Linked DNA regions of Homo sapiens: region 2 is linked to region 1. The links come from fine-mapping of genetic effects on gene expression. A gene starts in region 1. The other region holds a variant in brackets. All regions are shown on one strand. Distances are between the middles of the regions. Region 1 holds the start of OTUD3 (OTU deubiquitinase 3). Region 2 has its middle 23 kb from the start of RNF186.

Evidence for each region. PIP is the estimated chance that this variant, and not a neighbour inherited with it, causes the effect.
Region 2: its variant is the best candidate, but not a certain one, in a credible set for the expression of OTUD3 in NK cells (Schmiedel 2018, PIP 0.53).

What each region holds. Positions count from the first base shown.
Region 1 is chr1:19,880,305-19,884,304 of GRCh38, forward strand. It overlaps OTUD3 (OTU deubiquitinase 3), which reads left to right and starts at 2,091. Exons shown (of 8, transcript NM_015207.2): 1 at 2,091-2,430. The coding sequence starts at 2,210. All of the region lies in intron 1 of LOC105376823 (a long non-coding RNA gene), which reads right to left. RefSeq lists an enhancer at 1,875-1,924 and a silencer at 2,295-2,634.
Region 2 is chr1:19,836,285-19,840,809 of GRCh38, forward strand. No RefSeq gene overlaps it. Among named protein-coding and RNA genes, the nearest start is that of RNF186, 23 kb to the left of the region's middle. The variant C/CA (reference allele first, on the strand shown) is at 1,864.

The DNA of each region.
Region 1 (4,000 bases):
CAGGTGATCCGCCCGCCTCCACCTCCCAAAGTGTTGGGATTACAAGCGTGAGCCACACGCCCAGCCAAAAAGATTTTTACAAGACGGGCAAGTGTTCGCTTTTCTATCAATATGTTAGCAGTCTGTATTTACTTATTTGCTGGTGAGAAACCTTTCTTCCCTGGTTTCTAAAGTTTGAAAGTCTTTGCCCCTGAGCTCATGAGATTTCCAGAGAACTGATTCAAACAACTTCATTAAATAGGTACTTACTTCATGCCTGGGGCTTTACATTTTTATTTAATCTTTACAACTCTCTTTTGCATTCTTATTGTCATCAGAAAAATGCAAATCAAAATCACGATGAAATACCATCTCATGCCAGTTAGAATGGCTTTTGTTAAAAAGAAAAAATAGCAGATGTTGCTGAGGCTGTGGGGAAAAGGGGAACATTTTTACACTGTTGGTGGGAATGTAAATTAGTTCAGCCACTGTGGAGAGCAGTTTGGAGATTTCTCAAAGAACTAAAAATTGAACTACCACTCGACCCAGCAATCTCATTACTGGGTCTATACTCAAAGGAATATATATCGTTCTATCAAAAAGACAGATGCACCCGTATGTTCACTGCAGCACTATTCACAATAGCAAAGACATAGAATCAACCCAGGTACGCATCAACAGTGGATTAGATAAAGAAAATGTGGTATATATACACCATGGAATACTATGCAGCCATAAAAAAGAACAAAATCATGTCCAGGAAGAGGGGAGAACAGCAACATGGATACAGCTGGAAACCATTATCCTAAGTGAACTAAGGCAGAAACAGAAAACCAAATACTGCACGTTCTTATAAGTGGGAGCTAAACATTGGATACACATGGACACAAAGATGGGAACAATAGACTCTGGGGAATACAAGAGTCGGGAGGCAGTTGGGGGAAAGGGTTGAAAAACTACCTATTGTGTATTGTGTACTTTGCTCACTACCTGGGTGACAGATTCATTTGTACTCCAAACCTCAGCCTCACGCAATATAGATGGGGTTTCACCATCTTGGCCAGCTGGCCAGGCTGGTCTCGAACTCCTGACCTCAGGCGATCCCCTGGCCTCGGCTTCCCAAAGTGTTGGGATTACAGGCGTGGGCCACTGCACCTGGCCTCAGTTTTTGTTTTTGTTTTTTTGTTTGTTTGTTTTTTGAGATGGAGTCTCGCTCTGTCCCCCAGGCTGGAGTGCAGTGGTGCAATCTCGGCTCACTGCAAGCTCCGCTTCCCGGGTTCATGCCATTCTCCTGCCTCAGCCTCCCGAGTAGCTGGGACTACAGGCGCCCGCCACCACGCCCGGCTAATTTTTGTATTTTTAGTAGAGACGGGGTTTCACAGTGTTAGCCAGGATGGTCTCCATCTCCTGACTTTGTGGTCAGCCCGCCTCGGCCTCCCAAAGTGCTGGGATTACAGGTGTGAGCCATCACGCCCAGCCTGGTCTGTCTCAGTTTTAAAACGGAAAGTCCTGCATCCCAAGAAAACCTCTAGTCCAGGCAAACCTAGGTGGGTCGCTCTAGGATGGAATTAGGATTTCCAGTGGTCTTGGACAGAAGGGCGACCTCTCCCTTGAGTTACGAAGGAAGGCGGAGAGATGAAGGGCAGGATTAAATAAACAAGTATGCGGGCTTTGGAGCCAGGGCAAAGCTCTGCCTTTTAGCTGTGTGATCTTGAAATTATTTAACCACTCAGATTCAGTTTCCTGTAATTTGGGGATAATTAAACAAGAATGAGCCGTGTGAAAGTGCCTATCCAACTGTAGTAGGCTCGCAGCAAGAGTTTAAATCGTTTTTATTCATCTCCGGTCCTAACTTTTGCCGCTGCTCTGTGTTCCACTCTTCTATCATCTTTAATTTCTCTGCTTGACTTGTTCCTGCTTTGTTCTCTCTGGTCCCTCTCCGGTCGCTCCTGCCACTCACGTTGAGTACCATCCACCACTAGAGGGCGGAATAGAACAAACCAAGATGGGTGCCCCTCCAGCTCTCTATGGCGTCTGCTCGCCGAGCCCCGCAAAAGAGGCGGGGATTCCATCATGTGACCGGGGTGCTGGGCGCCGGCGCAGGCGCGGTTGCTGCGTAGTCGTCGCCGGGCTCCGTTGCCCGCGCTGTTTTACCTTCCCAACGCTTGAGGCGGACGCTGGGGGGTCCTGCGCCTTTCCCTCCTGCCGCTGGGGACTGCAGGCTAAGGCCATGTCCCGAAAGCAGGCGGCGAAGAGCCGGCCGGGCAGCGGCAGCCGGAAAGCCGAGGCCGAGCGCAAGCGGGACGAGCGGGCGGCGCGCCGGGCCCTGGCCAAGGAGCGGCGGAATCGGCCGGAGTCTGGCGGCGGCGGCGGCTGCGAGGAGGAGTTCGTCAGCTTCGCCAACCAGCTGCAGGCCCTGGGGCTGAAGCTGCGGGAGGTGCCGGGGGACGGGTGAGGCGGGCCGGGAGCGAGGGAGGCGGCGCCGGGGGACGCGCCGGGCTCGGCCTGGCGACCGTTGCCCGCTCGCGTCCATCCATCCATTCATTCGGGCGGCCCGGGCGCCTCCCGCGAGCCAGCCACGCTCCGAGTGCAGGGCGTCCAGCTGCGAGTGAGGCGGACAAGCCCCTCGCCCCGAGACGCTCGCGGGGATCCCAAAGGGTCCTAATCATGGCAGACGCCGCGAGCGAAATAGAAAGTGGGTGCTGAGACCGTATATGGGAGCAGGGCCACTGGATTGTGGCCAGGAAGGGCTCTCTCAAAGGTGACATTTAAGCTGAGTTCTGAAGGAATGAGATGGAGCCAGGCATTGGAAAAACAGTTATCATGACGATAAGACCAGTTGAAGGAGTTTGAGTAAGCCCCACTTGGTAGAACGCTTTGCCTCCTTTGAGTCCTTGGTTTTTGGGTGGTGCCCCCATTTACATTTGTGAAATTAGGTCGCCTGTTTACTGAGCTGAAGGCAGCTTCTCTAATTCTTCCTTCCATGGGCCTCAGTTTCTCTGTAAGCAAAGGTGCTTCCCCAAGCTTTCTTGGGACTTAGACTGGATCCAGGTCCAGCTTTCTTTAGGGAACGCGGAGGGGGAGAGTGGGGAGGAGGAAGAAAATTAGCTTCAAGAAAGGGGATATGGCTCCAGGAACATGGATGGAAGAAGGAAAAGGGTCAGGAAGAGGGGAGAACAGTTAGGATCCCCATTGCAGGGGCAGGTAAAAAGGGGTCTGGTTGTCAGCTGTGTCACTTTGGAAGAGAGAGTGTTAATAACAGCCTGGCTTTTGTTTTTTTCCTCCCCGTATTTGAGTGCTCAGATCCTGCAGAGGGAAGACTAAAATGAAATTAAAGACCATAAGGAATTGCCTTAGTTCATTATTATTGTTATTTTGTAGAGACGGTGATTTTGCTGTGTTGCCCAGGCTGGTCTCGAACTCCTGGCTTCAAGCGATCCTCCTGCCTCGGCCTCCCAAAGTGCCTAGATTACAGGCATGAGCTACCACCCCCGGCCAGGAATTGCCTTAGATATTAACTGCAGAATAAGGTGTTTTAAAAATTTTCACATTACATTGCAGCTTATTGATTAAGACTGTGAACTGGTCCTAATTTCCCTTTCCCACCGTTCCTGTTTATGCTCATTGCTTCAGGCAGATTGGATTTCTTTTTGCTCACAAAGAGTTCACCACACTTTGCTGCGTTGCTGTTTTTGCTTAAGATGCAGTTGGAACTTGATTACATTTATTCACCATCATCTGGCAAAGTGCTTGGTACATGGAAGGCAGTCAGTACGTTTTTGCTGAATGAAATATAAAAATAATAGAGGGAGGTCAGCTAGCCTAAGCATAAGCCCAAGACACCCTTATAGAAACAGAAATACCAATTGAATACAGTGGAATTGGCGTGGGACATTGGGGCTTTTCCTTGCAAATGATTGGATTGCTTGTGTCTGCTATACTGGGTATGGTATTCTCAATGTCAGGGTGCCCAGGAAACTGAAGTACTCAATAGAAGGTTACTTATGAGGAGGAATTAGCA
Region 2 (4,525 bases), 44 kb before region 1:
CTTAAGCCCAGGAGTTTGAGGCTGTAGTGAGCTATGATCATGCCACTGTATTCTAGCCTGTGTGGCAGGGCAAGATCCTGTCTCTAAATGACAAACAAACAAAAAACAAAGAAAAGAAAAGAAAAGAAAAGGCTGGGCACGGTGGCTCATGCCTGTAATCCCCGTACTTTGGGTGGCTGAGGCGGGTGGATCATGAGGTCAGGAGTTTGAGACCAGCCTGGCCAACATAGTGAAACCCTGTCTCTACTAAAAATACAAAAATTAGCGGACATGGTGACGCACACCTGTAGTCCCAGCTACTCGGGAGGCTGAGGCAGGAGAATTGCTTGAATCCAGGAGGCGGAGGTTGTGATGAGCCAAGATCACGCCACTGCACTCTGGCCTGGGCAACAGAGCAAGACTCTGTCTCAAAAAAAAAAAAAAAAGTCACAATAAGTGTAACAGGTTTGAAATAATAAGTTAAGTTCTCTGACCACAATGGAAGAAAATTAAAAATCAATAATAGAAGAAAATTTGGGACATTCACAAATATGTGGTAATTAAGCAATGAATTCTGAAATAGCCAATGAGTCAAAAAAGAAATCACAGAGGAAATTAGGAAATACCTTGATGAAAGAAAACAAAATCACAACACACTAAAACTAATGGTATGCAGCTGAAGCCGTTGATTAGAAGGACATTTACAGGTGTAAGTGTGTACATTAAACATGAAGAAAAATCTCAGGTCAATGACCTAAACTTCCCCTTCAAGAAAACAAAAGAGGAAGAGGAAGAAAGAAAAGGAGGAGGAGAAACTAAATCCAAAGAAAGCAGAAGGAAGGAAATCATAAAGATTATAGTAGAAATAAGTAAAATTGAGGCAATAAAATAATAGAGAAAAATTAATGAAATTAAAAGATGCTTCTTTGTAAACATCAACATAATTGACAAACCTTTGTCTAGACTGATCAAGAGAAAAAGAAAGAAGACCTAAATTACTAAAACAATGAATGAAAAAGAGAGCATGTCTACTGACCTTACAGAAATAAAAGTAATATGAGGGAATATTATGAACAATTGTATACCAACAAATTAGATAATCTAAATGAAACGGACAATCTCTTAGGAAGACACACATTACTAAACTGACTCAATAAGAAATAAAAAATCTGAATAGATCTATAACAAGTAAGGAGATTGAATTAATACCTTAAAATATTTCTTATAAAAAAAAATCCAGGAGCAGATGGCTTCACTGATGAATTCTATCAAATGTTTAAAGAAGAATTAACAATTCTTCACAAACTCTTCCAAAAAATAGAAGGGGAGGGAATAGTTCCCAACTCATATTTTGAGGCCAGTATTACCCTAATACCGAAACCAGACCAAGATATCACAAGAAAAACGAAACAAAATAGACCAATATTCCTGATGAATATAGATGCAAAATTCCTGAACAAAAAGCCAGCAAACCAAATCCAGCAATATATAAAAAGGATTATGCACCACAATCAGGTGGGGTGTATTCCAGGAATGCAAAGTTGGTTCAACATATCAAAATTCAATTAATGTGATACACTATTTTAATAGAAAAAGACAAAAAACTACATGATCATCTCAATAGCTACAGAGAAAGTAGCAAAATTCAACACACTTTCAAGATAAAAAACACTCAAGATGCTGGGCACAGTGGCATGTGCTTGTAGTACCAACTACTCAGGAGGCTGAGATGAGAGGATTGCTTGAGTCCAGGGGTTCAAGTTCAGCTTGGGCAACATATGGAGACGCTGCCTCGACAAAACAAAAACAAACACAAACAAACAAAACATTCAGGAAACTAGGGAACTAGAAAGGAACTTCCTAAATCTGATAAAGAGCACCTAC[C/CA]AAAAAAAAAAAAAAAAAAAAGCCAGAGCTAAGATCATAATAATGAAAGACTGAAAGTGTTCTCCCTAACATGAGGAACAAGACAAGCATATTCATTATTGCCCACTCCTTCCTCCTTTTTCCTTCCTTCCTTCCTTCCTTCCTTCCTTCCTTCTTTTCTTCCTTTCTTTCTTTTTCTTTCTTCTTTTTTTTTTTTCCACTCTGTCACCCAAGCTGGAGTGCAATGGCACGACCTTGGCTCATTGCAATCTCAACCTCCTGGGTTCAAGCGATTCTCCTGCCTCAGCCTCAGCCTCCCAAGCAGCTAGGATTACAGGCACCCACCACCATGCCCGGCTAATTTTTTTATTTTTAGTAGAGACAGGTTTTCGCCATGTTGGCCAGGCTGGTCTCGAACTCCTGACCTCAAGTGATCTGCCCGCCTCGGCCTCCCAAAGTGCTGGGATTACAGGAGTGAGCGACCGTGCCTAGCCACATTATTGCAATTTCTATTAACATTATTGTGGAAGTTCTAGACAGAGCAGTTAGGAAAAAGAAAAAAAGGAAGAAAGTAAGGAAGAAAGAGAGGAAAGAGGAAGGAAAGGAAAGGAGAGGAAAGGCAAGGAAAGTCATGTAGATTGAAAAGGAAGATGTAAAACTCTTTCTATTTGCATATTACATGATCTTTTATATAAAATATCCTAAGGAATACATTCCCAGACACTCCCACGTATATATTATTATAGCTAATAAATAGGTTCAGCAAGACTGAGGATACAAGATCAATATACGAAATCAATTCTATTTTTATACATTAGAAATTAACAACTCCAAAATGAAATTTAAAAAATTCCATTTGTAATAGCATCACAAAAATGAAATATGAATACATTTAGCAGAAGAAGTGCAAAATATATACTCTAAAAACTACAAAACATTGTTGAAGGAAATTAAAGAAAACCTAAATGAATGGAAAGATATCCTATGTTTATGGATTGTAAGATTTAATATTGTTAAAATATCCACACACCCCAAATTAATCTACCAATTTAATGCAATTCCTATGGAAAACCTAACTGGCTTTATTTTTGCAGAAATTGACAAGTTAATCTTAAAATTTATATGGAAATTCAAGGGATCCAGAATAGGAAAAAACAATTTCGAAAAAGAAGAATAAAATAGGAGAACTCACACTTCCCAATTTCAAAACTTACCACAAGGAGCTGTAGTAGTCAAGACCATGAGGCACTGGTATAAGAATAGATGTATAGATTAACTGAATAGAGTTGGAAGCCCAGAAATAAACTCATACATTTGTCAATTGATTTTCAACAGTGATGCTAACACAATTCAATGAGGGAAAGAATAGTCTTTTCAACAAATGGTGCTGGAATAGCTGGATATCCACATTTAGAAGAAAGAAGTTGGACATAATTTAACAAAATTAGCTCAAAATGGACCAAAGACCTAAATGTAAGAGCTAAAAGTGTAACATTCTTAGAAGAAAACATAGGTGCAAATCTTTATGACCTTGGAATAATCAGTGGCTACTTAGATGTCACACACAAAGCACAAGCAACTGAAAAAAAAATGACTTCATCAAGATTAAAAATGTTTTTGGGCGCAGTGGCTAACACCTATAATCCTAGCACTTTGGGAGGCCAAGGTGGATGGATCGCATGAGCTCAGGAGTTTGAGACCAGCTGGGGCAACATAGTGAAACCCTGTCTCTACCACAAGAAACACAAAAAATTATCCGGGCATGGTGGCGTGTGCCTGTGGTCCCAGCTACTCGAGGCTAAGGTGGGAGGATAGCTTGCTCCTGGGAGGCAAAGGCTGCAGTGAGCCGTGACCACACCATTCCCTTCCAACCTGAATGACAGAGTGAGACTTTGTCTCAAAAATAAATAAATTAAAAAAAAAGTTTATGCTCCAAAGGCACGATCACAAAAGTGAAAAAAAAAACCCACAGAATGAAAGAAAATATTTGCAAATTCTATAACTGAAAGAGTCTAGTATCCAGAATATATAATAAACTCTTACAATTTAACAGTAAAATACAAATAGCTCAATTTAAAAATGGGCAAAGAATTTGAACAGACATTTCTCCCAAGAAGATATGTAAAGGACCAATAAGCAGGTGAAAAGATGCAAACCCAAACCACAATGAGATATCATTTCCCACCCACCAGAATAACTATCATCAGAAAGACAGACAATAACAGGTGTTGGGGGAAATGTGGAGAAATTGGAACCCTCATATCATGCATTATTGGTGAGAAAGCAAAATTATTCAGCCACATGATTTGGAAAACATTTTGTCATCTCCTCAAAAAGCTAAAAATGGAATTCTCATATGACTCAGCAATTCCATTCCTAGGTATATACTCAAGAGAATTGAAAACATGTTCATATAAAAACTCATACATGAATGCTCATAGTATCATTATTCATAATAGCTGGAAAGTGGGAACAACCCAAATGTCTATCAACTGATGAATGGATAAACAAAATGTCATCTATCAATACAATGGAATATTATTCAGCTATAAAATGAATGAAGTATGGACACGGGCTACAACATGGATAAACCTTGAAAACATTATACTAACTAGCAGAAGGCAGACACAAAAGACCCACATATATGATCCCATTTATAGTGTCCAGAACAGGCAAATACATA